Regions from separate parts of the Homo sapiens genome. Here region 2 is linked to region 1. Evidence: fine-mapped expression QTL. Tissue or cell type: unexposed skin. Region 1 holds a variant in brackets; the other region holds the start of a gene. All regions are shown on one strand. Distances are between the middles of the regions.

Region 1 (2,857 bases):
CATGATTCAATTAGCCCCCACCAGTCCCTCTCACCACCCGTGGGGATTATGGAAACTGCAATTCATGATGAGACACAGCCATACCATATCAGTAGGCTTGCATTTTATTGGTTGTCTTCCCTTGAAAACAATAAGGGATTTTATTAGGCAATGACTTTCTCAAGTGGTCCATTCCTGAGCAAAGGGAACTGCTCTCCAGGAATAACCCACTTGGCCACATGATGGGCATCTGCTCCCCAAAACCTAGGGAGCTCATCAGGACCCAGGGAAGGAGGATTATGGAAAACTCTGAGAGGGGCCCATTTCTTTCTTTTCTTTTCTTTTCTTTTTTTTTTTTGAGACGGAGTCCCACTCTGTTGCCCAGGCTGGAGTGCAGTGGTGCGATCTCGGCTCACTGCAAGCTCCACCTCCCGGGTTCACACCATTCTCTTACCTCAGCCTCCCACGTAGCTGGGACTACAGGTGCCCACCACCTTGCCCAGCTAATTTTTTGTATTTTTAGTAGAGACGGGGTTTCACCGTGTTAGCCAGGATGGTCTCGATCTCCTGACCTCGTGATCCACCCGCCTCGGCCTCCCAAAGTGCTGGGGGCCCATTTCTTTAAATTTGGCCATGATGTATTTCCTTGGCAGAATATGAAAAAAGTCCAAAATTTCAACACACTACATTTGTTTGGTTCTTTAGAATAGGGCTTCTCAAACGTTAATGTGCACACAATCACCTGGTGATCTTGTGGAAATGCAGACTCTATTTCAGTGGGTCTGGGGTGGGGCCTGAGAACGTGCCTTTCCAACAAAGTCCTGGATGCTGTTGATGCTGCTGGCATGAGACACACCCTGAGGAGCAAGACTTTCAAGTTTGGCAAGTGTTTTCCTATGTCATCTCACTCAGTCCTCATGACAAGCCTGTGAGGTACCTGACACATCCCCACTTCCAGCAGTAGAGGCAGGTTCCATGAGGTAAACAGACTTGCTTCGGGTTGCACAGCAGGTACGACTTACTCTCAGACATCTGAATCCGCGTCCTGTGATTTTTCTCCCACACAACTGTGCCTCCTCTGCGTACATCTTGGCCCATAACGCTTCTCAGGAAGATGCTCCAAATCAGGGTTTTTGTTTTCAGAGAGCTTCTTCATCAGCACACCACTGCATTTTTTCCCATTCCCCATATCTTGTTAGATGGGTTCTTTTATGTTGCTTGTCAGTATGTTTAGGTGGTGATTGTCATCCAACATTCTTGCTATCCCTCTCCACTTTATACTATCCACAAGTAGATATAAAATGTCTAGTTTCTCTTATTTGAATTATAAATACAAGCTTTTCTTCGATGTTTGAAGGCTCAAGTATTGATGGATACACAGAGGACTAATCTCTGGGAAGTAATACAGGCAGTATATATAGAGTCAGAGTAAGAGATTAAACATCTTATTGATAATGAGCAGGTAACAAAGTGGGAATCATTATAATAGCATAAGCTGGAAGTTGACAAAAACATACTGGGAAAACACATGGATTCTGGAGTTTTGAATCCTGGTTCTGCCTGA[C/T]CAAATGTGTGATGTGGGGCTAGTTACCCAACCTCTCTGTGCTTTGATTTCCTTGTATGTTAAAAGGAGATAACATGTTTTTTGTGACAATACATTTCATTAATTCACAACAGTCCCCCACATATATTAAGTGTTCAATAAGTATCAGTGCCTATCCTTATTACCAATTGGATAGTCCAATCTCCTTATTTTTATTTTTTGAGAGAGGATCTCACTCTGTCACCCAGGCTAGAGTGCAGTGGTGGGACCTTGGCTCACTGCAGCCTTGACTTCCCAGGCTCCAGCGATTCTCCCATCTCAGCCTCCTTAGTAGCTGGGACCACAGGTGTGTGCTGGCTCATTTTTGTAATTTTGGTAGAGACGGGGCTTCGCTGAGTTGCCCAGACTGGTCTCAAACTCCTGAGCTCCAGTGATCCACCCACCTCGGCCTTCCAAAGTGCTGGGATTGCAGGCATGAGCCACTGCACCTGGCCAATCTCCTTATTTTTAATATGGAGCCAGAGAAGCCCAAAAAGCTTAAGTGATTTCAACATTCATTAACCAACAGTTTTGGAGCTTTCACTATGTAGCAGATATTTACTAGTTGGTGAGTAGGCAAATGTTATAAGTTGGGAAGTAGTGGAGCTGATAAGTGAACACAAACCCTCTAGTTTCTATTCTATTATGGTAAGTGTGAGTGTATGTCTCCACACTCACTGCTGCTCTTGATCTGCAATTGTTCTTTGGTATTTCCAACAGTTCCAAGGGCAGCATTGCCTTTAACTCCATTGACTCTAGTAGCCATCAAACTTTATCTTCTTTTCCCATTTGTCCCAGGAGGATCCTGGGAGTGTGGAACGAAAGATAAAGAACCTTAAGCTGAGCCCTAAGTGCCCTAGACTGGCTAAAGAGGTAGGTCTGGAGGTCAGGAGTGCTCTTAAACCCCAGGGCTTGCTGATGCTCTTCCCAGGTCTGAGTTTCCAACCCCACCCAGAGATTGTTGGTTTGAGAATCAGCATAGTTTACCTGGCTGAACTTCGCGTTATTGGCATTTCTGTCCCCCAGAACAGTAAGGAATTTGGTTACCCTGGGCCATGGCTGGGGCACTGGTTAGCAGCTGCCCCTCCTGCTCATTTTGCGGCTCTATTTCAACAAGACTTGAAAACCTTTGTCTTCAGAGAACTCTCCGGCTCTAAGCTTTTGTGCTTTTGTTTGGAGCAGCCTGTTCTTGTACTTGTAGTTTCAGGTAAGGCATCTGATGTGTAATTAAAGGATAAACACAGAGAGAAATAAAAGTATTTTATTACTTATATGAAGTGAAGTAGGTGCAAATAA
Region 2 (2,647 bases), 150 kb before region 1:
AGAGGGGTTGGGTAATGGGTGCAAAAATATATAGAAGGAATATGATCTAGTGTTTGGTAGCACAATAGGGTAAATACAGTTAACAATAATTTATATTTCACAATAAAGGAGTGGATTTGGAATGTTCCCAACATAAATGATAAATGATAAATGTTTGAGGTGATGGATACCCCAATTACCCTGATTTGATCATTACACATTGTATGTTTGTATCAAAATATATGTACCCCATAAATATGTACAACTATTGTGTATCCATAAAAATTAGAAATAAACTATATATATAAAAACTATATGGATATATATATAAACAAACTATATATGGATATATATATATCCATATCCTTCCACACACATATCCATATCCACACACATATCCATATCCACTGCTACCACTCTGTCTCATATATATATGTATATATGTATATATATATGTATATATATGTATGTGTATATATATATATATATGAGAGAGTGTCAATAATTGGTAAGTGTAGATGAAGAGTATATGGATATTTTATGATACTATTTTTTTTCCAAATAGTTGGGAAAAAAGAAAAGGAAGGGGCGAAAGGATAATTTAATTTCCTAATTGTATTTTCTTAGGCTATTGTTAAATGAATTATAGCTAAGCAGTGAAAACAAAACATTTATTCGGGTATGGTTTTATATTTAGGAGTGAATCAAGTTACTAGTGACTCAACTGTAAGAATTATTAAATTGGTAATGCAGTTTTCGTTGCTTGTTAGAGAGACTTCTCATACTTTATGGTTTATGCTTTGGAAGCAAATAAGCTCTAGAGGAAATGGAACAGGTATGTATTAAGGAATTTAAGTTTTTGCTGTAAGTTTGGAAATACTTAACAAATTCTAACTTTTCATTATCACAAGCCTTTTAAAATTACCTGTGATGATAGGTATCTATAAAAGTAATTATATTGATTTATCCCTTTTTTCTAGGTTAAAAAAATAAGTATGTTTTATTGGTGGTAGCTAAGTGGATCTAGTTGATAAAGGTGGAGATATAAATATATTGGTGTAAAAGGACAAATATGAGATAAGACTATGTATTTATTGCCCATTTATGTAATTGCATGTGTCACTAAGGACAAAGGTCCTTAAAGACGAAAAGCAGAGTAGAAACAGTTCCTTATATTAAGACAGATGAATTTGCTACCTCTTCCCTCTTCATGAATTTTTTTTAAATGTATGGTTGTATATCCTTCCAGTTTTATAATCACATTTGAAAACTCAACCATCTTTCTGGGCACAATTTGATGGCTGAAGATATGCTTCACTCCAATAAAAAGAAAATGAAGATTTTTCAAGAGCATTCGTAGGCTTCGAATCAAAAGGACAGTACTTATTTCCTGAGGTCTGATAACCGTTGTTTTATGAGGAAATAGTACTAGGATCACAGTACCATGGATGTGGTAGGCGAAAATGAGGCCCTGCAGCAGTTCTTTGAAGGTAAGAGGCCAATTTCCAGCATGAATTTGCTGCTTCTGAGAAATGCTCACTATCCCTGTTTCACCTTTTCCGTATTCACTTAAACTTTGTTTTGAAAGAAATGCTATCATACTTAGGTAACTCTCCTAATATCAAAAGTAGGGGTTTATTTGCTACATTGGGAGCAAAATTCAATGGTATGGATAGAGATTTTAAACAAAACAGGATTTTCATCTTATAGTTTGGTTGTTAGAATCAAGGGGTCAGCATATTTATGTTGTTATTACTTGTCCCTGTCCTGTACTAGATTTTATTTTTTCCCATGCCCTATGTTTAAAAAAACTACATAGCCATGCTCAAATTCCATGTGAAGGGAAACGTGACCATCATTTTTACACGGTAAGGTATTTTGCATGAGGGAGTATGAGAAGAAGTGAGGGAAGACCTGCTCATTTACAGAATCTAGGGATCAGTCAGCAGCACATCGAGAAAAGTGCTTTAGGTATTTCTTGTGCTTTGTAAAGTGCCTGACAAATAATATATATTTAAAAGTTGAATGGAATGGGCTGAATAGTAAACAATGCTGAACACTAAAGAGTGACGGGGCGTACCAAAGAAATAGTGAGATTCTATGTCACTATTGGGAGGAATCAACACCATGGGGTAGTTTCTGTGGCTTGGGTTTTTCCAGAAATGGCAAGAAGAAACATAAGACCAAGAGAATTATCACATTATCTTGTCCTACCATCCATCCCATTGAGTGTTCTGTCTCTGACAGTGGCCAAGTTGGTATTGTCTACCTGGGTCATGCTTGGCACATGGTAGGCACACTAGTGTTGCTAGACTGTTATTGCCTGATTTTATATCATATATAATTTTCGTTTGAGCAGCAGGTGGCAAGCTTCAATCTACCATTGCATCTATTTTAGAGAAACCAGCAATTTATTGTATACATGCAAAAATCTACTCCATTTCCTTCTAGAGCTAGGGAAGACCTGAATATCGAATTTGGTCTACCTTCTGTTTTTTGAAAGAGCTTTTATTTCTATGGGATCCCTATACTGTCCTTGTTTATACTATTTTTGGAGGTTTCTATGGATATAGTTTCTACAAGTCCCCTCTACAGCTTGTTACAATTATCTGATCATTATTATAAAAGTATTTGTCTTCAGTGTTTTTCTTACATTATCTGTGAATAG

Evidence for each region. PIP is the estimated chance that this variant, and not a neighbour inherited with it, causes the effect.
Region 2: MYRFL starts here. The variant in region 1 is fine-mapped to the expression of MYRFL in unexposed skin (GTEx, PIP above 0.99).

The regions. Positions count from the first base shown.
Region 1 is chr12:69,971,471-69,974,327 of GRCh38, forward strand. No RefSeq gene overlaps it. Among named protein-coding and RNA genes, the nearest start is that of MYRFL, 150 kb to the left of the region's middle. The variant C/T (reference allele first, on the strand shown) is at 1,544.
Region 2 is chr12:69,824,095-69,826,741 of GRCh38, forward strand. It overlaps MYRFL (myelin regulatory factor like), which reads left to right and starts at 1,133. Exons shown (of 25, transcript NM_182530.3): 1 at 1,133-1,469. The coding sequence starts at 1,424.